Regions from separate parts of the Homo sapiens genome. Here regions 1, 2, 3 and 5 are each linked to region 4. Evidence: fine-mapped expression QTL. A gene starts in region 4. Each other region holds a variant in brackets. All regions are shown on one strand. Distances are between the middles of the regions.

Region 1 (6,020 bases), 97 kb after region 4:
AGCGAGGCAGGATAGATAGGATAGTGGTCAACAATGCTAGCTTTGGAGTTCAGTTTTTGTGTTTGAAGACCAATTTTACCACTTGTTGCCTAAGTAACCTTGGATAAATCATCTAACCTCTTTGTGTCTCAGCTTCCTTACCTATAAAATGAGGGTAATAATAGTACCTCCTCATAGGTTTGTTGGGAGGATTAAATCCATGAAGGCATTTCACTTAGAACAGTGCCTGAACGCTTCCAAAATATCAGCTGTTATTTCTTTGTTTATTTGTGCACTAGAATGCAAATTCCTTTAGGGTAGGCACTACTTCTCTCTTACTCACCTCTGTAGTCCCAGTGTCTGGAACAGCATCTCCAGGGCCACCACACTCCCTAACTCCAGGGAGTGTCCTCTCGGAGCATGTGTGGTGGCCCTGAGTGCCTGACAAACAGGAGGTGAACAACAAATATGTATTGATATTTATCAGGGAGGGACAACACACTCCTCCCCACCCCTGGCGCACGCACACGCTTGCACACACACACACACACCCTTCTTGTGCCTCTCTCCCTGACAGATGAGAAGGAAGAGAGTATCCTGGGCAGCATCCCCCTCCTGAGCTTCCGGGTAGCCGCAGTGCAGCCCTCAGACAACATCAGCCGGAAACACACGTTTAAGGTCAGTTGGCCTTCCCTTCCCAGGGCAGGTGGGGAAGGAAGGCCTGCTCTTCTAGAGCCTATGGGAATGGAGAAGGGCCAAGAGCCATCGCTCTAAGGAATCCCAGGTGGTGGTGGCCATAGCAGTGGTGGTGGGTTGGGGGAGGAGGAGTAGTAATGGCCCCTAGACTCAGCACAGTCTCTTGTAAGGCTAGAGCAAGGCTATGCTGGGACCTTCCTCCTCTCTTGGGGGTTGGGTGGGCAATTCTCCTAAGAGTGGGCCAGTAGAGATGTGTTTCAGCAGCACCACAATTGTTACTGGGGCAGGAATAGTTATGTTCTTAGTCCTTGGACTTTTTGCCCAGTTCCTGCCCCTGGGAAATCCCTCTGGGCAGAGGCAGGAGCTGTGGCTGGTGGGTTCTGAGACCTTTTCTGGAAAGGCTTCCTCCCCACCGTGGTTTCAGGAAACTGGACCTACCCCCAAGTCAAAGTTACTCAAATTTCAATCTTTAACGAATATTAGAAGTTGAGTTTCATTCCACAAGAGCTGCAAATCTTACGAAGAAACCATTTGAGAGAACAAGTGCACAGGAACATGGGCCTTTCCTGCCTGCTCAATATCACTGCCTTGAACCCCTGGGGAGCCACCCGTTAAAGATGTGCCTGCAGCTGGCTCATCCTAGGCCAGTGTTTTTCCACGTTTAAAAAGTCACGACCCATCAGAAACTATAAAAATCTCATGCCCTTTCGTATTTTATGATGTAAAAATCATAGGTCCCTTTTCATTTTCCAAATATAAAATTATAATACCAACCACACATTTTCTTGGTACAAAGCCCTCTCTCCCCTAATTGACAATTGCTGTCCAAGACCCTTCAAAGCTATGATATTAGATGACTGGATCTGTAGGTCACTCCTTGAGCTTCTAGAGCCTTAGAAGAAGGGACTCTGTCCCTTCCTGTCCTTCAGGCTCCAGTCACCTGGCCACAGAAGAGAGCTGGGCAGCATGCACAGGGCCCGCTACAGGGAGCAAGGAAGGACTTATTTGGCACATAATTAGTTTCCAGCCTCCCGGGGTCTTGTATGCCAGAGGTGTGAAGAGAATGAACAATTAATAAAGCTCTGACTCCAGGGAGCCAGTTCTAGCTGGGGAAATAGGAACAGGCTGTTTAACCAACAACAAGTAGTCCTGTTATACACAGACACACACACACACACCCACACACACAATCAAACAGCCTGTCTCACCCTCCCCACCAGACCTGTGCAGAGACACAGACACGTTCCAGCTCGGAGCTCTGCCAGCAGCAGGCGTGAGATAAACATCCCCGAGTGACTGACACACTCCCTCCACCACAGATCCCAGATATCACCTCTCTGCCCACCAGCCCCTCGCCTCCTTCCCCCACACTGCGCTGCCTCTTTTAAACCTGACTCTGAGGGCTGTGCTCGGTGGCCCACAAAGGGTTCTGATTGTGGCTATTCCATGGCCCTTCCCCAGGGAAGGGAGGGGAGCTGAGACAGATGGGAGGCTTGTCCTGTTGTGGCCACCGAGCGAAACTCTTGGATGGCTAAGAATGAGCCAGGAACTGTTCCTGCCCAGGCTACCGCTGAATGCCTTAACCTCTCCCTAACTCTGGCCCCACAGAGGCTCCGGGGGCTTTGCCCCGCTGGGACAGCTCCCTCAATTCTCTGGCCCCCTTTCATAGTTCCAGGCCAGCGCCCCTACCCACTCCCCATCAATGGCCCTGTCTTTTCCCAGGCCCTCTGCCTTCTCCTGTCACAGCACTTGTCCCTGTGCCTCTGCTCTCTCCTTGTTTCCCGCGGCATGTTTTGTCCCCCAGCGTGACTGTCAGCTCTTCAAGTGCAAGAGCCTGTCTTTGCCTTCCTTGTGACTGGTGCCCCCAGCGAGTTCTGCACACACAGGCTGCTCCCTGGATGCTCATTGAATTGATGAATTCATTTGCTGCCCGCTCCCACCCACCCCAGGACACACCCACGAGCCCTGCCTGTGTGTCTCCGCTCTACAATAACCCTGTGTTCTCCACCTAGAAGGCTTGCTTGGGCCCCTGGTCTCTCTATCCCCTATCCGTCGCAAGTCTCAGCTTCTTAGTCTTCACTGGCTTTTTGTCAACACCTCCCCTGCCCTCTCCCACACCTACATGCTAAGCCCTCTGCTGGAGGGTGGGGACCAGAGGAAGGAGGCCCACCCCTGCCTCTTGCTGGGTAATGGCTCCTGTCAGAAAGAAAATGAGGGCTGGGGACAGGTGGAGGCGAGGTGGGACCAGCTGCAGCTGAGGAATCTTTTGAGCATTTAGAGGGTGTGGGCTTGACGTTGCTGTTCAGGGGAGCCCTGAAGCTATCTCAACCCCCAGAGACCCAGGATTTAGGGCTCAAGGGGTCAGAGGCTGGAGTGAGGCTCACATCCGAGACTCTGAATCACTGCTAGATGTCCCCTGTTGAGTGGGCTAAGCTAGGCTACTGAGGATCTCACTGGGAAGTGTGCTGAGGTCCCAGAAAGCATTTAGTCCTGTGGCCTCTTTTCCTTGTGGCCTAAGAACTTTGAATTTCACCAGGCAGACTCTTTTCCCGTGAAATAGATGCATCAGTGAAGACCAGAGCAAAACCACAACTTGTCTGCAGTTGCAGAGCTGGTCAGGAGCAGAGCCAGGCTTAGCACTGCGATTCCCTGACTCACTCTCCACCACCAGCCTGAATTTCCCTGGTGCAAGCTCTCCACTCCCCACCCCTTGGTAGGCAGAACTGGGCATTGTTGGGTGCTGCCATTCCCGGGGGAATGCTGAGTAGAAGAGGACAATCTGAATATTCCCCCTTCCCTGTGCTCCTCACCGTTTCCTGCCACGTCGTCTTCTGTCTCTCCCTTTGGTGTTTGGTTGACCTGTTCTCTGCTTCTCCTCCTTCTGACC[G/A]CGTGAGGACCCCTCCTCTGGACAGGAGCTCTCTTCTGGGTTCCCGCCCGCAGTACCTGCTCGCAGCCACCAACTAGGTAGTGTGCCCCATCTGTATGCCAGTGCCTGCTTTGCATGCCTGCAGAGAGGGGCTTGGCTGTCTCTCCACGTGGAAGAGACAGTGCTAGCTTCTCAGCAGTGAAGCTGGGGCTAAGATTGGCATGTGCTCAGGGGGTCCTCTCTCCCAGACATGGGGTCATTGCCTTTGAAATCAAACATGGAATTTGCCGGGAGAATGGGTGTGATCATTGTCCCTCCTGCTTTAATTACCCCAGGTGGGGCAAGTAGGCTGACCTGGTTATTGGGCTGCCTAATGGTGCCCAGAGAGCCAGCCAAGGTGGATACGTGGGTACCAGCTGGAACCCTCGGGGTAGCTGCAAGCTGCCCTCTTCACCTTGCTCCTGAGCTCCGCATGGGGAAGAGCCCCAGGTGCAGGGAATGGCCCAACTGACTGCCCATTCTGTGGGCGTTGGTGTCTTCTCCCAACAGGTGACTGTGTGCTGGGTGGATGAGGCCGAGGCCAGCTCCACACGCTGCCTCTCCCCACAGGCTGAGCATGCCGGGGTCCGCACCTACTTCTTCAGTGCCGAGAGCCCCGAGGAGCAAGAGGCCTGGATCCAGGCCATGGGGGAGGCTGCTCGAGTACAGATCCCTCCAGCCCAGAAGTCAGTGCCCCAAGCTGTGCGGCACAGGTGAGTGCCAGGGAATTGAGTGTGGGGGTGCAGGAAGAATAAAGAGGGGAATGGAAGACACACCCAGCTCTGGGCCATTGCTAATCCCAGTGTGCCTACTTGAAGCCCTGGAGAATGTGTGAGCCGTCTCCTTGCATCCAGGCGGGAGGCCTGGCTGAGTGATTTCAGAGCCTGAAGTCTCTCTTCCCCTAGCCAGCTCCTCCTCTTCTCTCTGAGCTCGGGAAGGCCAAGAGAAAAGCCAGGTTCCATTGGGGTCTGGCCAGGAGCCAGAGGTCAGGGTCATTTGCTGGTTTTTCTCGGCTGTGTGTGTTAAGCACACCGCCTTTGGAGGAAAATAAACTCAGGTTTGAATCACACCTTGTCCACTTGGCTGTAGCGTGATCTCAGTGCAAGGGACTCACCCTCTCTGAACCCGAGGTTCCTCTGCTCAAAAACCAGCAAATACAACTCTACCTCATAGGGTTGTTGTGAGGCCTACACAGAGTGCGTGTAAAACACTCAACATGCAGTAAACTCTTAACATATGGCCGCTCCCATCGCCCGCCGTCACCCACGGTCTCAGCGTCTGTCTCTCCCTTAACTGGATGTGGAGTCTTGAGTTAGGTGCTAAGGGGGATCCAGGAAAAGGGGGTTTCACAGTGTAGGCTCCAAGTCCACATATCTTAGAAATGTTTACCAAGCAATGTTTCAACAATCCCACTTGAATATGTGGAGTTTGGGAAGCTGTAGGGGGAAAATTGTCACAAATTTCCATCTTCGCTTCAACCAAGGGGCATAATTCCAAGAGTTCATTCATTCATTTCACAAATACTTACTGTAAATATAAATGTGCAAGGCACTGTAGTGGGTGCTAGGAACACAGGGGAAGAAAGTCTGCCATGTTCCTACCCTTGTGGGGCCTGTATTCTCATGGAAAGTCAGTCCTGGAAGAAATGTGTTTTGGAGAAGGGAACTAGCGTGTTTATGTGCTTGTGAGTTTGAAAGCAGAAACTTCTGCTCCTGGTGCCCGCCATGTTTTATCTCACAGCAGTCCTAGGAGGGGAGCTATTATTATGCCCATTCTGCTGATGAGGAGCCCAAGACTCTTGGCAGTTAAATAACTTTCTATAAGAAAGACAGCTGCCCCGTGACAAGCCTTTGTCACTGGAGTATCAAGGACAGTTACTGATGTGAGTGCAAACCCAGTTTGGGGAGCTGGGTCAGGGATAGATCGCAGAGAGGACCAAGACTAGGTGAGGTTAGTCATGCCATAGCTTGAAGGCTGGGCTCAAAGCAGACTGACAGAGGGGAGTGGGGTGGAGAATGACCTGCAGAGAAGACGTGGGGGGCAGAGTTAACACAGCAGGTGTGGGCAGGGGCGGATTAGGTTGTATAATAATTTCCCAGGCTGGAGCGAGAAGGTGAAGGGGTGGGACTTAGGAAGCAGAACTGGAGTTCATAGAATCCTGGTTCCAGCCACCTCCCTGCCCATCCTTCCCCACTCCTCTTCTTCCCAGTCTGGCACCCCCTGCCCCACTCCATGCTGGGCTAGAGTCACTGACAGCATCTCCCTTGGCATCCTGCAGCCATGAGAAGCCAGACTCGGAGAACGTCCCACCCAGCAAGCACCACCAGCAGCCACCCCACAACAGCCTCCCTAAGCCTGAGCCAGAGGCCAAGACTCGAGGGGAGGGTGATGGCCGAGGCTGTGAGAAGGCAGAGAGAAGGCCTGAGAGGCCAGAAGTCAA
Region 2 (6,020 bases), 35 kb after region 4:
GAGTTTGAGACCAGCCTGGCCAACATAGAGAAACCCCGTCTCTACTAAAAATACAAAATTAGCTGGGCGTGGGGGTGCATGCCTGTAATCCCAGCAACTCAGGAGGCTGAGGTAGGAGAATCCCTTGAACCCAGGAGGCAGAGGTTGTGGTGAGCCGAGATCACGCCTCTGCACTCCAGCCTGGGCAAGAAGAGTGAAACTCTGTCTCAAAAATAAATAAATAAATAAATAAATAAATAAATAAATAAATAAATAAATAAAATAAATAAAAGCAGCTTCTTTCCTTTTTATCCCAGCCAGGGTCATCAGAAAGCAGCCAGGGCTCCAGCTCTAATTTTGAGAATAATGAGGTTTTATCCAGAGAAGTCAGGGAACTGGCTTTCAGAAACACAGTGAGTCAGAGGATATGCCTCAAATGGGAAAGGAAAGCCAGCCATCCCAGCTCTCTGATACCTGCCCTGTCCTTTCCTTAGGAATGGGAGCAAGTGAGAAGAAAGGAGAGAGGATTGGGGTTTGGCTTATACTTGCTCTTGTATTTTTCCCTTTTGGAGGCCTGGGCTGTCTCTTGCCCTTGAGACAGGCCCCCTGAGTCCTTGGTCTAGAGAGCCAGGTGGCTGTGCCTCCTCCCCAGGAGCTTGTGGTCCCCTGGGGCCTGGCACAGCGCTCGCCCATCTGCCCATGCAGATCAGAGATGGAAATCTGCAGTTAGACCATTGGACACCACAACGTGCATGGACAGATGAGGAAGTCTGCTTGCAAGGTGCCAATCAACGACGGGGCTCTCAGCGCTCTCCTGGGCCTCAGCGGGCCAGAGACTGCAGGCCAAGAAGGGGCTCCCAGAAGGGGCCCGTCGGCATCAAGGCTCACTTGCCCTGTGCTAGTTCCTTATCGCTGTCTACTTCCTGTACCTCTCCACATGTGGGGCACTAGAGACACAAGACACCCTCTGTGGGCCTTGAGAGGGAGACAGAAAGGAATGGAGCTGGGGATAAATCAGGAGTGAGGCCTCAGCGCCAGGTGGGTGGGAGAGGTAGGAAGGACAAACAAGCAGGAAGCCCTGGTACTGCTTTCTTGGGCATTAAACGAGGAAGAATGGTGCAAAGTGAACAAAATGAAATACTGTATTTCTGTTTCACTGGGCTCGCGCCTGTTACATCCTTGAGCTACTTCTTTTGCTGGGAGTTCAGCCTTGTGACTCAAGCATGTGAGCAGAGAGTGGCAGGGTTTCTATCCCAGGAGGAGGAGGAGGGGATGGAGAGAGACTGGGGAGAGGCTGAAACCCAAGTAGCTGCTTTGTCCACAAATCCCTACTACAGAGGCTGCCGTACCCAGCGCGCTTCTGCCTGGACCACTCCCTGCCTAAGTGCGGAGGCCCCAGGGTTTGGGCAGTGAGCAGTTCCTCACCCTATTTGGATCATATAGGAAGGAGGGAGCTAGTCTAAGGATGATGAAAGGCAGTGAATGCTGAGTGAGGTCAAGTCCTAGTGCTGAGCTCCATACTGGCACACAGAAGGCACTCATAAAATATATATGGAATGAATGAATGAACCAACCAACCAAGGAGAAGGAAAGGGGTTTGATTACATTTATCCTCCGACTCTTAATTCTCTAGCTTAATCCCTAGCAGTCAGATTTAGGGCTTGGACAGCAAAAATTATTTGCTAGAAATGTGTTGTGAGAGGGTGTAAGGCTCAATGATCTATCACCTGGAGCACTGCTTTGTGAATTAATTAACCAGGCTTTTGGTTCTCTTCTTTCTCTTTTGTCTCCATGCCTCTGTGGTGCTCACTTGGGTTTGGGAGGTGGCATGGACTGGGGCAGCCATGCAAAGTCTTGTTAGAATGAGAGCTGGGAAGCCTCTGTCTATCTGTGCTCTCATGGCCCTTTTTGGGTTCTGAATATGGGTCTCGATTGTCTCTGTTTCTTTGCCAGTGCTTTGCACATAGTGGGCACTGATAGAACATTTGATGAGCTAAGACGTGACCGTGTGTTGGCACAGGCAGGAGGGAGAAGCTTCACTCTCCTGGCTGGTTGGGTCTAAGGGAGAGAGGAGCTGAGTGTCTACTTGTGCCCTCTGGTCTTCACAAACTGAAGGGCACTGTTGGAGCCGGGCTCTGTTTCAGCTGGCAGAAGGGGGCATGGAACTGGAGCTGCCCTCAGCCATGGAGAAAGTTGGCCACAGCAGGACTGGACACGTGGAGTGCTCAGAGCCTGCCTCACAAAGCAGCTTAGGAGAAAATTAAGTGGTCTCAAGCCAGGGGAAGCATGGCTCCCTGTGCTGGATGCATTAGGGAGACGGCTGGGCAGGGTGAGGAATGGGGCTTGCTGTGGGCAGAGGGACTCTGCCCCTTTTGTGTTCAGCCCAGTCTATATGTTAATGGCAGCCCAGCGGTGCTTGGCTTTGGCAGCCTGGAAATGGCAGCTACTACTTCTCCCCATGCTGCCCTTCCACCCCTTGTTCGCCTGGGCCCTGAGATCTCTGCAGGACTAAGTGACCTTAGGGACAGGCAGAGTAGAGTCTTGCGCCAAGGCCTCCTGGGTTTGTTCACAGGCTACTCTAAGAAGCCACCAATAAGGAACTTTCTCAGGGCTCAGGGTCCTGAGCACCTTTAGAAGTTTCTAATAGGATTTTGTCTTCCAGATAGGAAGGAAAACCCATCCAGATCTTATAGAGGAACCAAAGCCCAGCGAGGCAGGTACTTGCCCACAGTAACGTGTGTGCTGAGGGCTCACCAAGCAGGCAGCTGGGCATTCGGGCTCCTAGTCCTGGGACCTGAGCTCTCAATATTTCTGAGCATGAAGATCTCATGTGGTGCCCATTGGTTCTTTGTCAAACCAGATATTTATTTACGTGAGTTCTTTGGTAGGACAACCAATTTTTCTCAGTGTGCCTGAGACTGTCCCGGTTTGAGCACTGAAAGTCCTGGGCAAACTGGGACAGTTGACCACCATGTCCCTAAGGATTCTCCCCCTGGCAGCCCTCTAAACCCAGTTTGCATTTCTCTTTATTGCTTTAATTGCAGGAAACATTTCTTCCTGGCATTCGTTTTCTATGGGCTGACCCCAGAGAGCTGAACTTGTAGATAACTGGGAAGTAACGTTGCCTACCCAAGGTGCCTGACACTAGACTTTCCTATCTCTCAGGAGCTCTAAGACAATCAAAATAGTTGCATCTCTCTAAATGCAATTGGGGTAACTGAAGTACAGTGTGGAGGTGGCTCCTGCCTCTCCCTTGCTGAAAGCTCTGATCAAATTCTGTATTCCTGGGAGGCTGAGGCAGGAGAATGGCGTGAACCTGGGAGGTGGAGCTTGCAGTGAGCTGAGATCACGCCACTGCACTCCAGCCTGGGCAACAAAGTGAGACCCCATCTCAAAAA[T/A]AAATAAATAAATAAATAAAATTCTGTATTCCTGCATCTCCTCTCTTCTAAGTAACTCAGGCATCATGTGATCTCCAGTCTCCTTTATCCAACACAGTCCCTAAGCCAAAGGACAAAGACACAAACAGGTGACCCAATACCCTTTTAATGAATGGAGAAACTGATATCTATGGAAGGTTTAGTAAGCTATTGGCCTCAGGTCAGATAAAAACACCAGGATCCTAATCGACTTCCAATTCAGCACCTTTAGACATAAAGCCTTCAGCTTTTGTGACTTCTGGAATAGTCTCTCCACTTTCACTCATTTCTTCTGAATTGTATCCCTCTCAGATAAGACTTTGTCAGAGAAACTCAACCTCAGAGAAAACTGTTTCTAAGTTCTCTTCATTTGGTTCCTTTCCTTGTCTTATTGATGGTGAGACATTTCTGTCTCATCACGAGCTGCCTCTCTAATGGGGGCTGCAAAGTAGCCAGAGCTGGAGTTTCCTATTGCCCAGCCCTGCCCTTCGTATCCTATCCCATAAAGGGCTTATTCATTGAGGCCCCTTTCTTTATCCTATTTATAAATCTTTTCAGCATGTCTTTGTGCCCAGTGACAAACCCTATTCTATCCTCTACTTCAGCCTTTGAGATACTAAAAATTTCCTTCCATCTTCAAAATCCCTTCACGATCCATAGCCCTGACTCTTACCAGGGATGCCTGGCAATCAAAGTCAGAGCAATCAAAGTCAGATTCTGGGATGTGGACCCCAAAGAGGGCTCCTGAAGTCCTCGTGCAGCTGAAACACATCCCTACTGGCTGGACTTTTACTGCACTTCATCATAGCTAGGAGTGACTCATGCAGACTCAAGCAGAACCTTGGGGCCCAGGGCAGAAGTGTGACTTCAGGTCTCACTCAGCACTCATCAGAACACTCACTCAGTATGCTTGTAATTAGAATTGAGTGATCTCATGGATGAACTGTACTGGGCTAACTTGAAGAGCACAGCTCTGGAGTCAGTCTGCCCAGGTCCTTTCCAAGTCCTGCCACTCCATCCTCAAGCAGGATATTTAACCTGATTTTGTCTCAGGTTCCTCATCTTAAAACAGAGGTCATAACAACAACCATCTCAAAAGGCTGTTGTGAAGATCAAATGAGTTGCATTTAGAATTATGCCTCACACAAGTATGCACTCAATAGATAGCTATTATTATAATACTAGGTAGCTTACACCCTCTGCCATTTACCTCTCTAGTAAGCTGTTTATTCATTTGACAAACACATACTGAGCACCTATTATGCACCAGGAATACAAGTACAACCTTGTTGAAGCTTTCCAGTTACACAAGCAGTTTATAATGCCCTCTAATTTCACATTAGCTTTCTTTCTTCCGAAATGTCCATTTGGCTGTGACAGCAGTTGAGAAGTCATCACTTTGGTCCCATCTAGCTCTCAGTGATCCTAGTCTGCATGTTGTGGGGCAAAGGCCACTTGCCTTGGGAGTCAGAGGACCTGAATTTCTATTGATGATTCAGCTGGTAACCAGCTGGGATCTATTGGACAGGTTGCTTCATCTTTTCTGAGCCTCAGTGTCTCCATCCTACCTTGAGGGGTGCTGCGGAGATAAGATGAGATAACGATGCAAAAGACCTATTAAATGTCAGGTGCTAGGATGGAGCAAAGAGAAGACAGTCCTTGGGAGAGTGCCCCATCTAAGTGCAGAGGGGGGCCTCCCCCAGGCAAGGCTCTGAAGATAATTAACATGAGTGCAAGCTCCCGGAGGGCACTGAGTGTCAGGGCCTAGCACAGTGTGCTGTGGCACATAGTAGATACACAGTTAATGCCTGCCACATAGCTGTAGACCCTTAGCAAATGTTTGTCAAATGAATAAATGTGACATAAATGGCTCTAACCAATGTAAAAGCGGGGAAGGCATTAAGTTCCAAGGAAATGCAAAGCAAAGGGAAGGTCAGGTTTGGGCATGGTCTATCAGGGAGGGCTTCCTGGAAGAGATGACTTAGATTTAGGTTGGGAAGACCTTGCATCCACAGAATGATACGCCATGGGACAAGAAGGGAATTTGCAAAATGCGTAGGGCCAGTTAGCTTGGTTGGGGTGGGAAGAGTGGTCCCCAGAATAAAAGGAGTAGGATAGGAGTTTACATGGGCAGTAGCTACAATTGGGTTTTGAGAGAGTAAACACTTGGTTGGGGGAATGTGGAGGAGCATGTGTGAGGAGTGTGATTATGGCTGGTGCAGAGTAGACCACAGGAGGCCCATTATCTGCTGCCTGCCCATTAAGGAAAGAATCCCAGCGGCTGATAGCTCTGGATAATAGTGACAGCGGTTGAAGCTATGGGGGCCTGGGACTGCCTGAGACCACCGGCTAAGCAGCCAGTTTCTATTGTCCACTAATGGCACTTTGAAGGTGGCAAAAGCTGGATGGCAGCAGCCTGCTGTGCGACCCCACTGGCTTCCCAAGTCACGCCAGGGAGCTGGTGTGGCTCATTAAGAGTCCTGAGAACTTCTGTTGCGGTGGAAAGCAAGGGCACAGAGAACTTCCAGAAGGATGCCGGGGCAGCTAGGACTAAAGTCATCCAGTTTAGAGCCTTGAGGTGAATAGATCATCATTTCCTCCCCTTAAACAAGGAGTCTGGGCACA
Region 3 (6,020 bases), 78 kb after region 4:
GGAAACTGAGACCCAGAAAGGGACAGTGACTCAGTAGTGGTCAGTTACCAAGACTCCTGACTCTGAGACCACCGGCCTTACCCTTTTCCTTAAGGACAATCCACACGCTGTCCATTCCTTGCCATCATGTGCCAGCTTTTTTCACAACTCTCCAGTCCCTTTCCAGATCTCCCTCTTCCTCTCGGGGGCGTCAGGGGAGCTCACAAAGGATCGTCTCAGTCTGCAGCAAGTGCTCTCCTAGGCACAGTCATTTTCTGGCTGGTTCCTTGGGTGGCCCTTGTTCCTAGGCTCCCTTTGGATCCCCCACCAGCAGGCAGCAGTGCAGGGATATCGCTTTGCCCTCAGAGTCCTTGGCAAGCTCCCCAAGTACAGGGGAAGTTCCAGATTCCTTGCTCCTGGCAAAAGGAGGTGTTCATAATTTCCCACAATCCACCTGGCTCCAGCTTACCCTATTACTCCCAGTCTGAGAGAGAACATCAGCTGAGCCCTCCTTGGGGGCCGGAGGCAGAATGGGTCTCCCTGGGCAGGTGAGGAGCAGCACTACATTAGAGCCTGCTGTTGCCCCTCAACCCTTGCTGTGCTACCCTCCAGCCAGGAGGCTCCTGCTCTCCAGCTCTGGCTGGTTTACTGCTTTCCTCTTCCCAGGGCAAAGCTTCTGCTTTGTAGACTCTTATCAGAGTCTGGCTGGCCAGTAGGGAGGGGAGGGACAGGAGGGGGCATGAAGCAGATGCACTGTGCACACTGATCCCGGCGAGAGGGATTTGAGGCTGAGCTCCTGTCTCCTTCAGCCGCTATTCAGCATCCCAACTGGAACAGCACGTGCCCCCTCCTCCAGGCAGTGGTGAGCCTGCTGGCCTGCCCTACAGCTGCTCCATCAAACTCAAACAGTTATTCAGTTCCCCTGTGTGTGAGGTGCTGGGCAGGGGCACAGCAATAAAGGCCAGGCTGTGGACAGTGTTTGTGTGGCTGCCCTTCCATGCCCCTACATCCAGGCAGCTGTTGTCAGACTAAAGTTTGTGGGTAGCCCCCAGCCCACATCACACACAGTCCCCAGACCTGTAGCCCACAGATATTACCAGTGAAAGAGTTTGTGGCTTTCATTACTGTGTTCTTGGAGCAGACCTTGAAAAGCTGGCATCTCCCCCTGAACCATGAAGCTCTCTCCTGCTTTCCTAGGGGCAGGGAGCTCAGATTGGGTGCATCGCAGGAACAGAAAGAAGGGAGCCCAAGACTCAAATTTTTCTGACCTCTCCTGTCACTATAGCTGGGACAATGCACCTCAGCTTCCCTGATTCTAAAATGGGCCTTCCTTGCCTCCCTCCCAGTGTAAGGACCAGAGATTGCATGCGTTTTATTTTTCTCTTCATTCCACATGCCTTCAGAGCATCATAACCTTTCTTCCTCTGCTCTCTGGTCCAGTGGGAGATTTGTGTTGTCTGCTCAACAAGGCATCACTCAATACCATTGTTTTACTGTTAAAATGAGAAAACTAAGATACCAGACAGCTTGATTCTCAAATTGCTGGATTGGGAACCAAGAAGGCACTGGTAGCTTTTGAGGATGGGGAAGGAGAGAGATCAGCCAGCTTCATAACTCTCCAAACACCCACTTTGTAAAATTCCTTTCGTTGGGTGGGGCAGGGTGGGGTCGCTGCTCTCCGTAGGACACCAGAAGCAGATCTGCTGAGTTAGGGATGCAGAGACATGGTTTCAATGACCTTCCATAGACCCGGCGGCGGACAGCTGGGCTGCCTCAGCCACTGAAGGGCAGGGGTTTGAGATTCAACTCAGAGCTGGAAGGCGGCGGGGCGGTGGGGGGGCATAATTAATTATTGCCCTGCCCTGTTACCCCTTGGGATCCGTTCCACATTGCTGGCTGTCAGGAGAAGGCAACTTGGAGGCGAGGGGGCTGGGGCCTTTTTTCTCTGCTTCTGTCTGGCTTAGCTACTGAGGAAAGGCTGAGAGGAGGAAAACCCAGAGCTGTAGGCAGCTGGTTCTCCTTTGAATTCCCCCTCTCTTTAGAAGGGAACAAGAGCACACAGCACAAGGAGGAGCTCCAGGGAGCTGGATTGCCCCAGTTCTCCAATTTGGGTCAGGGTGAAGGAGAAAGTGTCTCCCAGCCTGCCCATGGCAGCTTCTGGGTGGTAGAATCGCAGTTCCCCACAATTGGAAGACACTTCAGTGTTGAGACAGTTAAGGACTGGCTGTACCCGGGAATGATATTCAATAATTCATCAACCAGAAAGGATGCTGGCCTGGAGTCTTGGAGGGCCCTGTGGTGCCAGGCATTAACTCTTTTGTCTCTGGGTCATGGAGATGTGAGGAGGTCTCAGACCCTGGCCCAGAGATGGGGCAGGGACACTCGAGGGACTTGGGGGAGCAGCTTTTCACCCACCAACATGGAAGAGCTTCAGTATTTGAATCACTGGCAGAGTTATGCTATCTACTCTGGTTGTCTTCATTTTTCAGCAGACAGATGGAATTCCCTAAAGTAAAACAACCAGTTTAAAGATGAACCAAGCTAGGGTGGGAGGTCAGGATGAAGTTCCCCTGTATAGTATCCATGTTTTCTCTCATGCACACACACGTGCGTGCACACACATGAGCTTGAACCCGTTACCCTGACTGAAGTACACCTTGTCCTCCTGCCCTCAGTCTGCCATCTTAGGCCTTCCTATCTCCTCTCATAGGAATAAGGGACCACCCAGGCCCAGAGCAGGGGCTGGGAGACACTACAGTGAGAAAATGGGGGAAGGACAGCACCTGAGCTGGAAGGGAAGAAACCTGGACCTGGCCCCCTGATTTGTGATTTCTCTCCCTTGTCCACGGAGCCATCTCTTCTATCTTCTGCCTGTGGTGGGAGCTGAGCTCACGTAGAAGGCCCCCAGCCTTCCATAACTGCCCATAACAGGTTTTGGGATGGGGCTGGGGGTGCGGTGTGGCTGGGCAGAGTGAAGCAGGAA[A/C]GGGAGCAGCATGAGTCTTGTCTCCTAGACATGCAGCCGAGTAGCTTAGAACATTTCAATAAACTGGCTTGGGGCAGGGAGGTACCATCTTCTTGACAGTTTGGAAATAACTGTGGCATCAAAGGGGGGATGAGCAAGGGCAGAGAAGAAAGGTGAAAGCAAATACAAGGCTGGGTGACAGCCACTGGCAGCTGGTTCCCAGCACCCAGAGAACTGGTATTTTGATCTTCAAGGAGCACATGGAAGAGAGACAGTAGGGGTTGTTGTTTTTAGAGACAGGAGGGTCTTGCTCTGTTGTTTTTTAGAGACAGGGGTCTTACTCTGTTTTTTTTGTTTTTTTGAGACGGAATCTCTGTCTGTTGCCCAGGCTGGAGTGCAGTGGCGCAATCTCGGCTCACTGCAAGCTCCACCTCCTGGGTTCACGCCATTCTCCTGCCTCAGCCTCCTGAGTAGCTGGGACTACAGGTGCCCGCCACCAGGCCCGGCTAATTTTTTGTATTTTTAGTAGAGACAGGGTTTCACTGTGTTAGCCAGGATGGTCTTGATCTCCTGACCTCGTGATCTGCCCGCCTCTGCCTCCCAAAGTGCTGGGGTGACAGGTGTGAGCCACCGCCCCCGGCCTTTTTTGTTTGTTTGTTTTTGGTTTTTTTTAGAGATGGGGGCCTTGCTCTGTTGTTTTTTAGTGACGAGGGTCTTGTGCCTCAGGTTGGGGTGCAGTGGTGTGATCATAGTTCACTGCAGTCTCGACCTCCTGGGCTCAAGTGATCCTCCTGCCTCTGCCTCTGAGTAGCTGGGACTACAGACATGTGCTACCATGCCTGGCTAAGGCAGTGTTGTTTGGAGGGGTTCCTTCCCACCTGCAAATACCTAGAAGTGCTGCCAGGGCCTGACCCTCTTTGACCTCTTCTTTATGTGGCAGCAATAGGTAGGAAAACAGAGGGCCTCTGATGAGAAGTGGCTAGGAAAGTGTATTTTCTCCTGGAAATGGCAGGGGGAGCTTCAGGAATCAGGTGCATGAAGATGGCTGGAAACATAAACTGAGTTGGTTTTTAATTGGGACAGGATGCTGAAGCAGATAAGCCTCCTTGAAAATAATGATGAGATCCAGATGGGGAGGCACAGAGCAGGAGCCAACCTTCTCCCCACCTTCCCCTCCTCTGTGGCAGCAGAAATCCTCTCTGGAGCATGGACAGTCTCGGCTTGGAATTTGCTAGCTGGGAGAAAGAAGGAAGTGGAAGGGATGGGACCCCCTTTCCACTTGCCTTGCATGCAAACCTCTCTCCACCTAATGAGCTGTAATGCTGGAAGCCAAGGCGTCCTCAGGATGGGGAAGCTGGGCCAGGGCTAATTCTTTGTCAGCAGATTCTCAGGAGCTATGGAAATGAAGCAGCTTGGTGTACAGCAGATAATCAAGAGAGGCCCAGTGGGTGGAAGGAGTGGAGTATTTCTCCAGTCGTTCAATATTGATCACAGTGGGGTTCTGGGCATCCAGCCTGGGAGTGTGTGTGCATGTGTAAACATACATGCCTGCAAAAGATCGTGAAACTTGGATTAATTTTGCCACTCTTGACAGTGTAGTGCCAGGTATACTGCACGTGGAGGCTGACTCTCCAGGGGGATGTTTGGAGATGAAGCAATGCAGAGTTATCTCTATGTGAGGTACTGTAGGGGTTGAGGATGTCTCTTGAACTACAGGAAAGCTTTAAATAGGTGCAGAGACAAAGGCCTGGAAAAATAGAGAGGATCTGCTTCTTTTCTTTGTAATTTATCGCTCTTGAGACTTCCAGAGTGCCTGCCCCTGGCACTCCCAGCCTGTGCCCCATACACGATCTTCTTAAGCCTGGGACTAAGTATTTTTCATTTTTTCGCTCCTTCATCTGGCATATATCTTAATTTGTTTTTAAGTAGAATGATCATAGCCATTATCTCTTCTGCAAAAAATGGTCTATATCTTGCAAGTTTACAGCTATTATTTCATAGAATTAGTGTCTGTGCTGGTGAAGTGAGCACTATTATTTCATGTAGTTAGAAGGTACCTCATTTACACATGAGAAAACTAAGGGCCCAAGAAATAAAGTCATATTCCTAACTCAGGTTGGATCTTGGACTGAATGTTTGGTCCTGCCATGTTTGTTTCCACTGATGGCACTGCCATCAGGGCCACCCTCATTGTGGATAAGTGACCACCTACTGGACTGCTCTGGAGTTTAGGGCTGTTTCTACCTCCACCGCACAATCTCCTTTACCACTTGAGATTTTCCCTTCTCTTGGGTGGAATTTGAAAGGTCCATTTGGGTATGTATTCATGGATTCATAATCATTTGTCCTTGACAAATGGAAGCCTTTTGACATCCCAAAAGGAAGGAGAGAAGAAGGAGAAAACGGATTACCTGTCCTTGTTTCCCTTTTTAATGTTCTGCCTCTTGTAAGTTCTTCTTGATGTCTAACTAAAATGAAAATTTGCCATACTCTGCAGTTTATTGGCAAAGGGAAAGAACTGCTGCTAGACATTCTGTGTGCAGACTTAATTCCTAGGAGTTCAGAGCTCTTGATGAGCAGGGGAAGCCCCTGAGCCTTCCTTCGTTCCTACTCCCTTGTGCTATCTTTACAGGGCATAGGAGAAGTAATTTAACTTGCAGCTTAAGCAAAGGCTGTGGGAGGCCCCTGAGCTCAGCTTGAAGTGAAAGGGGATATTTTTGCCTTCTAGAGGAAGAAAGCTCATTTTCCCAAAGCGCCCCTACCCCCTCCTCCTTCTGTGCAGATGAGCTTAATTTTCTTCCCGTCCTACTGAAGGTGGATCAAAGCCAAGCTATGTATTCAAGGGGGAGCTAGGCAGGGAAGCTGAGTGAGGGGGCGAGGGGGCAGAAGCAAAGCTTCTCTCATGGAGAGGAAGTAATTAATTTTAAGAGAGAGCTAAGATAGGGAAGCCCTCGGTGATAGAATGTCAAACTCCAAATGCAGGTGGTTAAAAATTAAGTCAGGGCTGGAGAGTTTCTATTATTCATTCATTCAACAAATATTTATCGAGCACCTGTTATGTATGGGCAGGAACCTCAAG
Region 4 (6,020 bases):
AGTCAAGTAATTTGTTCAGTCAGTGAGTTACTCAGGGATGGAGCTGGGCTTCCAAGTCACACAGGTTATCGTTAGCCAGGCATGGTGGCTCACACCTGTAAGTCCCAGCAACTCAGTAGGCTGAGGCAGGAGGATTGCTTGAGCCTGGGAGATGGAGACCAATCTGGGCAACATAGCAAGACTCTGTCTGTAAAACAAACTAAAAAATTAGCTGCATGTGGTGGTGTGTACCTGCAGTACCAGCTACTTGGGAGGCTGAGGAGGGAGGATTGCTAAAGCCCAGGTAGAGGTGGAGGCTGCAGTGAGCTAGTTCATCCCACGGAGCTCCCTTTGCTGCCCCTAGTTGGCATGTTCTGCGAGGAAGAGAGACCCATGTGGATGCAGTTCCACTGAATGGGCAGTGAGCCAGTCAAGTTAGTGGCCACCAAGACTGTATGGTAGGGAGTGGGGATGGCACCAGAAAGGTGGGGAGGACCCGTGTGTTTGGAGACCATGAGTAGGTGCCTGGGAAGCTTGGACTTGATCCTCTGAGCAATGGGGACCAGTGATTGTAGAGCAGAGGAGAGACGGGATCGCAGAGGTGCTTTCTGTGGAATCCTCCCTCCCTCACGCCACCTCACGCCTTCCCCATTGGAGTTGTTTAGGTGAGGCTTGCTTCTCCTCTTCTGGGCTCGCAGAGCAAGAACTTAGATTTGGCAAAGGGAATTTATTATCTCTGGTCCATCCGCCTCACCTGTCCTTGCTGTAGCTCTAAGATCTTCATGCTACCACATCTCTTCCGCCTTGGTCCCCCAGCTAAAGGCATGCACCCCACACCGACCCTCCCTTTGGCTTCTCATGCCCCTGAAGCTACTCAGATCCCCCAGAAACATTCACATGTCTGGCTCAGGCTTCTCGAAGGATCCGTGGGACTCGTCTGCGGCCCTTGCCCTCTGCCTGCCAGAGAGGAAACCCGCCCAGCAGGCCCATCTGTTGGTCGCCTGCCTTTTCCAGCTGCCTGAGGATTGTGGGGGCTTGGGCTGGGGTCTCTGTCCCCCTCCCCGGCCTCCCTCTGGGATGCTGTAATCTCTTGCCTCCACTCCTTTCCTCCACTGGCTCCGCAGGGTCAGAGACCCCCAAGAGCCCCTCATCTTGGCTGACTGAAAGCAGACTCTCCCCCTGCCTGCACCTGGCAGCCTTGCCAAGTCCTGGAGAGCCAGGGCAGGTGAGTTGGGCTTGATCGGTCCTGCCTGGCACTGGGCCCTCATCCACAACTTGTCTGCCCCTTCAGCAGAGCAGCTTTCCTATAGCCAATGCAGGGCTGGCCTGACATCTCAGCTGGGCAGGGGAACAGTGGGAGGTGACCAAGAGTCCCCCTCCCCAAGAGTGCTGCTGAGCTGCGCCTGCTGCCCTAACCCCAGATTCCTGGCTCCAGCCTGGCCTGCCCTGGGGTGGGAAAGACAGTCCCTTCAGTAGCTCTCTAGGTCCCTGTCTTCCTCCAATGCTGTGGTGTGTGTGAGTGGGGTGTGGAGCCACAGCCTTCACACCAACCAGCCAGGTTCCTCCCAGGCCCTGGGAGGGAAGTCTGTGCTCCTGTTCCTTCCGTTGCACATTCCTTTACAGATAAGGGCTTCAGTTGGTAAAAATGATATATGTACTCAGATCACACTAAGAGAGACCCACTTGTATTGGAGTCAAGAGGCTTAATTTTTTGATCAAGTTGTTCTAATAATAAACAAAAAATGCAATCACCAGGTGAGTGGGGCCTTGCAGACACCCTTTCTCTAGCTCCTGCTTCTTGACATATTTCTCTATTCAGAAGTGACTCCAGAAGCTCATCTGGTTCAGTCCCCAGTTTCCAGGTTTAAGGGGCAGATGGGACTGAGACCAGCGAGCCTGCCTGGAGGTTGAGGTGGGAATCTTTTGGTTTTTTCCATCTTTCTGATCCTGTTTATGAAATCAGTGTTTTTATTACACTTGCCCATTGTCACAGAGAATCCGTGGATAGAGGAAAACTGAGAGAGATGTGGATAAAGGGAAACTGAGGCAGAAAGCAATCTTTGTCTAAGCAGAAACAGAGCTACGACCCTATTGTCTGAAGTCCTTCCTTCTGCCTCTGATCCTGAATAATACAGAACCCAGGTACCCCGTAGCTTGGCTAGCATCCTTGCTCAGGGTTATCAAGACCGATTTGGGCAGGAGCTAGAGAAAGGGTTTCTGCAAGGCCCCACTCACCTGATAATTGCATTTTTTGTTTATTATTAGAACAACTTGATTAAAAAATTAAGCCTCTCGACTCCAATACAAGTGGGTCTGTCTTAGTGTGATCTGAGTACCTATATCATTTTTACCAACTGAAGCCCTTATCTGTAAAGGAATGTGCAACGGAAGGAACAGGAGCACAGACTTCCCTCCCAGGGCCTGGGAGGAGCCTGGCTGGTTGGTGTGGGGGCAGTGGCTCCACAACCCACTCACACCCCACTCATCCTGGCATCTCATAGTGGCCCCCAACCCTCTCCAAATGTTATTTCTCTAAATTCACCATATTGGGGGGGGGGCGGGGGATGGGGAGGCCCCAGGGCCCCAGCCAAGCCCTCTTGACACCTAGAGACGTGCCCCTCTCTGGAGTAGACAGCCACAGAGGTGAAAGGTGATCACCAGGCTGGCTGGGTGAGGCCCCACACATGATTCTAAGACCCTGGGCAGTTTCTGGCTCCCTGCAGTCTCTTGTGGGGGACTCTAAAAATGCAGCTTACCCAGACGGTGGCCCTGCTCCCCTTTGGGGGGCAGCCTTCTCCTGGTGGTGGAAGGCCCAGGAGGCTGTGCTGAGCCACCCCATCCTCTCCCGGGCAGGCAGGCTGCGTGGATGGTTAGCAGCTTGTCGCTGGTGTGGATGGAGTTAAACCTTTTCGGGGACTATTTACTCCTGATCCTAAGTGACAGCTTGGGGAGGGAGAGTCACGTGGCCCTGAAATCCCCGGGGGAGCCGATGGAGCATGCCCAGCTGCCTCTGCCTGGGAAAGATGCTGGATCCTGCAGTAACCACAACAGCATCCTCTCCCTGCGCCAGGGACCTGCCAGCCGGAGAGATGACTGATTAGATCAGATTAGATCCGGAGCCCCGCTCTGCAGAAGGGGGCCCCAGGGGCGGGGGAGGAGGACCCCAGCTGGCCTGAGCTGGGGGGAGGGGTGCCTTGGGGCTCGCAGAGTTAGAGCTTTCCAGCGCGGGGATCACACCTCAGAAGCCGGTGAGTCTGTTTTCATGCATCACATAGATGAGGTGGGAGGAGGAAGGCTGGGCTCTGGTCAGGGCTGGCAGCTGCCTGTCTGCCGCGTGAGCCTGGGCTGCTTGCACTGCGGAGCACTGGCTTCCCCATCTCTCATCCTTGGCAGCCTTACTTGGGGATCATGGATGCTGAGAATGCTAATTATAGCCCTCCCTGTGCCCCCACCCCCACCTCCAGAGTCCCCTGTCAGGGCTGATGCTGTTTAAATTGATTACATTTGAATTGCATCTCCTGGATGAAGGCAGCGTTGGGGCTGGCAGCTTCCTAGGGTCCAGCAGGGGTCCCCCACGCAAGCTAGCACAGAGAGGCCAGCCCACCCTCCCTTTAATCTTGCCAGCAGGAAGGAGAGAGGGAGGGGGTCCAGGGTCAGGCTCAGGTCAGCCCCAGGGACTCACCTTCCTCAGCGTGGGGAGGGGTCAGGGTGTGTATCATTCTTATGAGTCAGAGGTTGGGTCGAAGGGTGACAGAGGCTCTTGGATTCCAATTCCTAGGACGCATCTGAGCTCTGGGGGTCTCAGATTTAGTGGGGAGCTCTTGAAGGAGCTGGAGCCTGGTATGTGGTAGAGGAGGGCAGGGAATGAGGGGATGGCATTTATAATGATGGGACCAGGCTGCAGCCAGCTAAGAGCCTCGAGGTATTGTGTGAGGAGTCTGAGGAAAGGAGGACAGTTGGGGGACTGGCCAGAGAAGGGTAAGGAGGGCTACAGTGGAAGGGGAGGGAAGCGGGGCGAGACAGGAAAGTGGCGGGGGTGGGGGAGAAGGGAGAAGAAGGGAGAAGAGGCTCCTGGGAAATGCTCTTTGAGACAACAGGCCAGCCAGGGCAGGGAAGGGGGCTGTGGAGCCTGGGAGAGCAGAGATGGAGAACCGGGATAGAGGGAGAGCCATCCCCGGGGCACAGGGGTGGGGAGGGAGAGCTGCAGGAGGGTGGAAGGTGGTGGGGAGGAGGCTGGAGCTCAGAGCTGGTGTCAGAGGAGGTTGCAGCCTTCAGGGATTGGAGGCTCTTCCCAAAGCCCTGTAGACCCTTTACCCTCAATCTGATCACTTGAGTGGTGCACTCTGCTGAGGGTCTCCTGCATGGTGGGGCAGGGTCCTGGCTGGCAGGTATCTGCCTGAGCCCACTGTCTGGGCAGGTGCGGGGGCACTGCGGGCACTTGCCCTACAAATCTCCCAAATCCTGTTTTCCAGGCCACCCTGGAAGAGTATGAAACTGAGGAGGGCTCCTGTGGCTAGGACGGTTCAGTCGCCAGCTTTCACCCCCGAGCAGCTGCATTTTAGCTTCAGCAGGACATGAGCAGACCCTGCTGGTGGAGGGGAGGTGGGAGCGGCTAGGCTCTGGCCTGTCTCCAGGTTGGGGTGGCAGGAGGGGCTGAAGGCACCCCTCCTGGCACTGCCACTGGGCTTTCCTTATGGAAACAAGCGAGTTTCTGTGTCTTTGCACAAGGGCACAGAGTGCCGAGCCACAGATATGAATTATTAAAAGTCATTGGTTTTCCAATCAGCGGCGAGGTGATAAATGTGTTAGCACTGGTGTGTAATTAATCCTGGCAGGCTGCTGCACACAGGCTGCAGACAATGGGGGTCCCCACCTGCTTTTTTTTTGCTGGGCTAGGCTTCTTTTCCTCCTTCCTAGGAAGGTGATGGTGCAGGACGCCTTACACAGATAATTACTTTGAATGTGTCTGCCTGGATTATTGAGTTGGATTATTTCTGCTTGTAAATGAAATAATTACTGATCCCTCAGTCAGTGAGGGAGGCAGCCACCTTGGCTCCCGGGCTGACATCAGAGCCCCCACCTCGCCCAGACCCAGCCTGCAGCCTCGGGCTCATAGAGCGAGCTCTCTTGGCCCAGGGGACTGGCCTAGGCCAGAGTGAAGAAGCCGCAACAGCAGATGGGAGCGTGGTGTCAACTGGTGCTGAACAGGCTGCGGTTCCGTTCTCCGAGCCAATTTCCTCATCGTCTTCCTCACTGCCTGTTGTGAATTTGATGAGGTCATTGGCACTGGTCTTGGCGCACCCATGGGGCCCCCCAGAGGAAGGTTGGAGCTGTGCCTCACAAAAGAGCTGCAGGATTCGCACTCCCCTGAGCTCTGGGGTGAGGCGAACGGGCTCAGGAAGCCAGGGCTTAATGAGGGGACTTGAGCAGGCCAGTCTCCAAACACTTAAAGCACATTCAGAGAGGAAAAAAAGACTATATTTTGGGAGACATTTAGAGTAACTGGGAGCAGAAGGAAAAGAAGTTGAGGGTAGGCTGAGTGGAAGCCTTCCCTTGACCATCTGTCTGTTCAGGGGGCTCCTGCTCAGCACCTACAACCTTCAGACGCCCCTCAGAGACTATCTAGTCCAGACTCCCTCCACATCCAGATGAGCCTTCCTCAGCCTCCCTGACAGAAGCAGCAGCCTCACTTGGATAATTTCAGTGACAGGGAGCTCATTACCTCACAAGGCAGCTTCCTCTGTGGCTGGAACATTCTTCTATGTTGAATCAAAATCTGCCGACTTCTAAGTTCCACCCTCTGGTTCTGATTCTTTGAAGCTGTGCAGAACAAGTCACCTCTCTCTTTTACGTGGTCATAAAAATAGTTTTCTTTTGATTAAAATAGTATATAATAGTCCGTGTGTGGATGTAATATATTTTACATGATCATTTCTATATTGGACATTTAGGTTGTTACCTTATTTTCCTTTTACAGATAGCACAAGAGGAACATTTTTGTTCATAAGGCTCTTTCTGTGTTTTGGGTGACTTAGGATAAA
Region 5 (6,020 bases), 53 kb after region 4:
CCAGTCCCCTCCTTGGAGAGGATCACTGTTACCAGTGTCTGCTACATCCTTCCTGAGAGGCTGTAAGCTAGGGGTCGGCCAACTGTGACCCATGGGCCACATCCAGCCCACTACCTAATTTTGCGTGACCCTTAAGCTAAGAATGGGGTTTATATTTGGTGCTGAAAAAAAAATCAAAAGGAGAATGATGTTTTGTGACACATGAAATTCAAATTTTAGTGTCCACAAGTAGAGTTTTATTGAAACATAGCCACACTCATTCATCTATGCTTTTTTGTTTCTGCTCATTTGTTTACTTATGAGTGGCTGCTTTTGCACTATGATGGTAGCATTGAGTGTAACAGGGACTGTATGGCCTACAAAGCTAAAAATATATATCTAACCCTTTACATAAAAAGTTTGCTGACTCCTGCTCTAGGCAAATATAATATTGGTAGTTAACATAAATTATTTCTTAGTCCAAGAAGCATCATACTAAATTGATACTATCTTCATTTACCATATCTTGTACAGTTCCTTCTCAATATGGTCATGCATTACTTAATTTTGGGGCTACATTCTGAGAAGTGCATTTTTAGGCAAGTTTGTTGTCATGCGAACATGACAGTGTACGTACACAAGCCCAGGTGGTATAGCCTACTACACACGTAGGCTTTATGGTGTAGCCTATTGCTTAAACCTGTACCGCATGCTACTGTACCGAATACTGTAGGCAGCTATAACACAGTGGTATGTGTGTACCTAAATATAGAAAAAGTACAGGAAAAATGCAGTGTTATAATCCTATGGGAACACTTTTGTATATGTGGTCCATCGTTGACCAGAACGACCTTATGCGGCGTGTGATTGTACAATGATATATTAGTCAGTGGGTGGTCAATCTTAATTTGATTGTAGCATGCTGAGTTTAAGGTTCAGTCTGGTTACCCTCAGGAAAATGCTCAGTAGGTGGTTGGGCTCATGGGACTGAAGCTTGGAGCCTGGAGGTTGAGATGCGGGGGAGACCTGCAGGGAGTCTTCAGTGTGAATCTGTCTATGACCTCAGCCTGCACGTCAAATATTTCCCTTAACAGAAATGAAGCACTACATGCTGAGCACTGTACAAAGTAAACTATGGATGTTAATAGAGTGACAGAAAGACAATGAATGAGAAACATGAAACCAGCCACTGGAGGAACAGTAAATACTACAGGCAATTTAGAATTACCTTCTTGAGGCCGGGCGTGGTGGCTCACGCCTGTAATCCCAGCACTTTGGGAGGCCAAGGTGGGCGGATCATGAGGTCAGGAGATCGAGACCATCCTGGCTAACACAGTGAAACCCCGTCTCTACTAAAAATACAAAAAAATTAGCCGGGCGTGATGGTGGGTGCCTGTAGTCCCAGCTACTCGGGAGGCTGAGGGAGGAGAATGGCGTGAACCCGGGAGGCGGAGCTTGCAGTGAGCCAAGATTGTGCCACTGCACTCCAGCCTGGGCGACAGCCAGACTCTGTCTCAAAAAAAAAAAAAAAAAAAAAGAAAAAGAAAAAGAATTACCTTCTTGAGTCAGCTGGCGACTGGAGGTAGTGGGAAGAGCAATGGGCATTTACTGAGTGCCTACCATGTGCCCCTGTATACATGTTACCTTATTTACTGTGACTCAGATGGGATCCTTAGCCTCATTTTACAGATAAGGAAACTGAAGCTCAGAGAGGTTAAGTGATTTTTTTTTTCTTGCAATCAGTGGTCCAAGTGAGTATCTAGTTGTATTAAAGCATGGTTCCAACTGACATTGATTGATTGATTGATTGACAGGGTCTCGCTCTGTCACCCAGGTGGGAGTGCAATGGCATGATCATAGGATCATAGCTCACTGCAGCCTCGAACCCCTGGCCTCAAGCAATCCTCCTAAAGTGTTGAGATTATAGGCATGAGCCACTGCCCAGCCCATCTGACTTGTAAGCCTCTTATTTTCCTTCTACCATCCAAGATGCCGAATCGGGCTGGGAGTCACTCCCTGGCTTTGCCAAGCCATGTCATCATCCTGGCCTCAGCTCTCTTATCTGCAAAATGAGGCATTTGTTACAATTGCTACAGTCCCTTCCTAGTCTCACCTGGCCTAATTCTATTATGGGTGGAAGCACAAAAGAAAGGGGAGCTCCATAAGAAGGATATGCAGAAAATTGGGAGAGGTGAGGAAGACAAATTTAGCCATTTATATATGTCAGACCCAGTTATCTAGAATCGGATCCTTAGGAGAATATTCCCTAATATGGAGGAATAGTCTCAAAATCTCTGCTCTTAAGCTGCAGACTTGCCTGTTGCCCTTATTGCCTCGATCCTGAGTGCCACTTAAGCACCTGGACTTGAACTGCTGGAGGGGTTGGGGCTGGGAGAGACAGTGGAGAGCACCTGGCAGGGCTCTCTCCCAGTGCCTGCACCTCTGGGCTCAGCTCCGCTGGGCTAGCTCAGCTTAGGGTTTCAGGAGTTGCTGCAGCTAGAGGGCTGTCTGATGTTTCCAATGAGCAGGCGGGGTAGGGAGTGAGGGGAACGCGAGGGCGGGTAAGCCATCAGACCCGAGGAACTGGGGGTGTGAGTGTGTTTATATAGGACTTGGCCAACCTGCAGTTTCAGATTTCAGAGCCAGCTTTATTGGGAGATGTTCCTTAGGTTTTCAGTTAGCGCTGGAGCAAGGAGAGAGCTGACACCAGAGTCTTCCTGGAAGGCTGGGGGAATTCTGGAATCCCAGGCTCTCTCCCTGTCTCCTTCCTTCTCATGGGCAGTGCATCCGCCACCCTCGGCAGCTTTCTCCGATCAGAAGTATTGCTTCACTCCTTCTCAGTCGGCAGTCTGCGTCTCCCAGCTGGGTCCTGACATCTGGCATGGAAGGTAAAATCTAGGGTCCTGGGGATCTCCGCTAGGAAGATCTGGGGCCAGCCAAACTTTCAGTGGAGAGGACCCGGGAGAAAAACTCACATGTTGGGCAAAGAGCAGTATTTCACAGTAAGGCAGATATGAATGAGTGTGAGTGTGTGAGAGTGAATGTGTGTGAGTGTGTGTGTGGTGCAGGTACTTCTGTTAATAGTTGGGAAGCAAATCTTTTACCTGTTCTTCCTCTTTCTTTTACCTCTTCTTCTTTTCATTTATCCCTTCTTTCTCTTCTAGCAAATAAGAATATTGC[A/G]TAAATGTTCATCTTCCTCGGGGTCTCTCATTAAAAAGTTAAAGAAAATATCTAATTTCTAGAAGGTGACTATTTTCTCCCTTGGGGGTAGGGGGCTGCAGAGGGAATTTAGAGACATAAGTACAACCCATGTGTATCCAGAGGACTGATGCCCCTAGGGTAAGCCCTGGATTTTGTAGGTGCTTAGAACACTTGTTTTTTTAATTTTAGATGGTGGGGGATGGTGTACATGTACAGGTTCATTACGTGGATATATTGCATAATGCTGAGGTTTGGGCTTCTGTTGAACCAGTCACCCAAATAGTGAATATAGTACCCAATAGGTTTATCCCCCATTTTGGAGTCCCCGGTATCTATCTACTGTTGTTATCTTTATGTCCTGGAACATTTCTTATAAATCTACCTGTAAAGCTGTCTGTTGGGAAGGTGAGATCCTTATGCATTCCAGCATGGTCTCCATGTGAAATTAGCTTGAACCAACCCAAGGGATCAAAGCTATGAGGGGCAAGTGGCAGGAGCACTTTCTTCTCAGTGCCTCAGAATTGGGCAGGATGGAGGCCAAAGCCTTGGAAGAGGGGGAGGAGGAATTGGCATTTTGCCTGAAAGCAGAAATTTGGGCGAGACAGGTGATTGGTGGATGGTGGGTAAGGCTGGCTGAATGTGGCCCCGTCTTCCTAGGGTTTGTGTGGTGTTTCTTGGTGGCAAGGAGCAGAGATCAGAGAACTGCCTTGTACAGGGGCTGGTGGGTGGGCAGCCTGGCCTGGCTGCCATCTGAGCAGTCACTGGTCCTGTGGGCAGCACATGCTGTGAGGCAGGATCTCGCAGGAATGGTGGGTGGCCCAGACTCAATGGGACAGAGCCAGAGGCTGGAGGTGGTTTTTGAAAAGCAGATTTGGGGTGGTGAGATATACATTGGAGGAGGAATGTGGTGGAGAAAGCTAGAGAAAGAATATGGGGTGGATGGAAAGGAACAAAAAGAGGGATTGGGGAGTCCTAAACTCTGACACATTCCAAAGCTGCAGCCAGGCAAGTGATCTCAACTCTCAATGTCGATATAATCCAGAATAGGTGAGAAAACCACCGTTTGCCTACTGACTTCTGAATATAGTGGGAGAAATGTATGAGAGGTGATGCGGGATGGGCAAAGTGCAACAAAAATACATTTTAAGCCTAAGAAATCATATAGTACAATGGAATTTAGAAGGCAATCACACAGCCATTTATTAGGCAATACAATTAATAGGTTGTACAGTCTGGTTATTTTTGAAACTATGGGCATTAAACATTTTTTTATTTATGTCACCACCTACTTCCAAATAGAATTCATAGCATCTTTATGTAGTTGGTAGATGCTGCTGTGCATAATTTTGGCCAAAAGAGTGTCATAATTTCTTCCTTTTGTTCAATTGTACAGTGCTTTGCAGCTCAGACCAAGTGTGCTTTCATACCCACACTCCCATTCTAGCTCAATTTAGCAGGTGTTTACTGATCCCTCTTCTTCCCTAAGCAGTGTGCTAGATTTTGAGTATAGAGAGATGGAAAAGAACTGGATCTGCCTTCAAGGGTCTCTCAGTTTACCTGCAATCCTGTAGGGAAGATGGGAAAAATATTCCTACAATATAGATGAGGAAACTGGAGCCAAAAGATGCTGCTATGGTTAGTCAGCAGGAGGGATGGATTAGAATCCAACTCCTAATCCAGCGTGCCGCAGTACTGCATGCACCTCCCTCTACCCCACTGCCCAGCAATGCACGCACTTTCCTTTACCTGTTCATCCCCCATACTTTCTGCATCAGAGTAATGAGAAAGAAGCAGTGATAGGGAAGGCAGAGTGGAAAACTGCTCCCTGGTATGGAACCAGTCCTCTCTGGGCCCCCTCATCGTGCAATTGAAATGGCATCACTGGGTCTATGTCTCTGTTACGTTGCCAATTTGATGCTCTCTACCACGCACCAGAGGCATACTTTTTTTCCTCAGGTAATTCTTGACTTGGAGTAGATTGCCTTCTTCTCTATTGTCCCTGAATTATTTGAACAGGCGAGGATATGGTAAAATTCAGGGGCTCACAGAAATTTAAGAGGTTTCAGTAGGGTGGTAGATGCTCACTGGACACCTGCTTTATAAAATAACAACCAATGTTTGTTCAGTGCCTTGTAATTGACAGAGTGCCTTTAATATAAGTAAAGAATAGTATGTGTATTAATTTCCCCCTCCCTTCCATACCTGCCCTACTCAGGTTTTCTAGAAGGTCTGAATCCCAAAAGCGTAGGATCTTTCTCTTAATTTTTAGGCTCAAGCTAAAAGGGACATGGAGCTGTCTTCTGGCCCAGTGATTCCCAAGTTTTGGTCTGTGACAGAGTTTTCACCAGTCTGAGGTAAAATAAGAAAAATAGGGAAAATTTACCAATTTTTTTCAGAAAGCAAAATGTATTAGAAGACATCTTTTAGGGGCAGGAGATGTGCTGAAATATTTACTAGCTTATCCTTTTTCAGAGCTGATGGTGAGAGTAGATGGTAATCAGGCTTTTAAAATATCCTTATTTAGCAAAATTAAAAGTTGACAATCTTATATTGGTTGTCCCTGATAAGGCCACTTTTGGGGCAGATTTCTGAAAACTTGAATTCTGATCTTGTCACTACCATCTTTCCCTGCGGGTCTTTAGAATGTGATAAACTGATAAACATATTGAGTCTTTCTCCATTCTTACTTTGTGAGAGGTTTCTACCTCCAGGGTCAGGCCCCCGGTGAAGGAATGTACTCTCACTTCCTCTTCCCCTTTGTCCTGAATAGCAGGGATAGCAGGGCTTTGGGATTAGGACTTGCGCATTCTTATTCCTACAGTCACCTTTTGGAAATGAGG

Which allele goes with the higher level. Positions count from the first base shown, and alleles are read on the strand shown. Sizes are in standard deviations (SD) of each study's normalised expression. Not every link is listed here.
As copies of G replace A in region 1, the expression in cerebral cortex of the gene that starts at base 2,992 in region 4 goes up (moderate effect, 0.43 SD a copy in GTEx).
For the expression in thyroid of the gene that starts at base 2,992 in region 4, allele A in region 3 goes with a higher level than allele C (small effect, 0.33 SD a copy in GTEx).
In carriers of allele G in region 5, the expression in skeletal muscle of the gene that starts at base 2,992 in region 4 tends to be higher than with A alone (small effect, 0.38 SD a copy in GTEx).

Evidence for each region. PIP is the estimated chance that this variant, and not a neighbour inherited with it, causes the effect.
Region 1: its variant is the best candidate, but not a certain one, in a credible set for the expression of PLEKHA6 in cerebral cortex (GTEx, PIP 0.78).
Region 2: its variant is the best candidate, but not a certain one, in a credible set for the expression of PLEKHA6 in whole blood (TOPMed, PIP 0.74).
Region 3: its variant is the best candidate, but not a certain one, in a credible set for the expression of PLEKHA6 in thyroid (GTEx, PIP 0.57).
Region 5: its variant is the best candidate, but not a certain one, in a credible set for the expression of PLEKHA6 in skeletal muscle (GTEx, PIP 0.62).

What each region holds. Positions count from the first base shown.
Region 1 is chr1:204,259,579-204,265,598 of GRCh38, reverse strand. PLEKHA6 (pleckstrin homology domain containing A6) reads left to right here. Exons shown (of 23, transcript NM_014935.5): 6 at 557-657; 7 at 4,151-4,293; 8 at 5,859-6,020. Among named protein-coding and RNA genes, the nearest start is that of GOLT1A, 49 kb to the right of the region's middle. The variant G/A (reference allele first, on the strand shown) is at 3,563.
Region 2 is chr1:204,322,288-204,328,307 of GRCh38, reverse strand. All of the region lies in intron 1 of PLEKHA6 (pleckstrin homology domain containing A6), which reads left to right. Among named protein-coding and RNA genes, the nearest start is that of PLEKHA6, 35 kb to the left of the region's middle. RefSeq lists an enhancer at 5,924-6,020. The variant T/A (reference allele first, on the strand shown) is at 3,378.
Region 3 is chr1:204,278,807-204,284,826 of GRCh38, reverse strand. All of the region lies in intron 1 of PLEKHA6 (pleckstrin homology domain containing A6), which reads left to right. Among named protein-coding and RNA genes, the nearest start is that of GOLT1A, 68 kb to the right of the region's middle. RefSeq lists enhancers at 323-822, 823-1,324 and a silencer at 1,909-2,112. The variant A/C (reference allele first, on the strand shown) is at 2,963.
Region 4 is chr1:204,356,901-204,362,920 of GRCh38, reverse strand. PLEKHA6 (pleckstrin homology domain containing A6) reads left to right here and starts at 2,992. Exons shown (of 23, transcript NM_014935.5): 1 at 2,992-3,227. RefSeq lists enhancers at 1-116, 3,104-3,739, 3,855-4,781, 4,782-5,709.
Region 5 is chr1:204,304,184-204,310,203 of GRCh38, reverse strand. All of the region lies in intron 1 of PLEKHA6 (pleckstrin homology domain containing A6), which reads left to right. Among named protein-coding and RNA genes, the nearest start is that of PLEKHA6, 53 kb to the left of the region's middle. RefSeq lists an enhancer at 5,657-6,020. The variant A/G (reference allele first, on the strand shown) is at 3,160.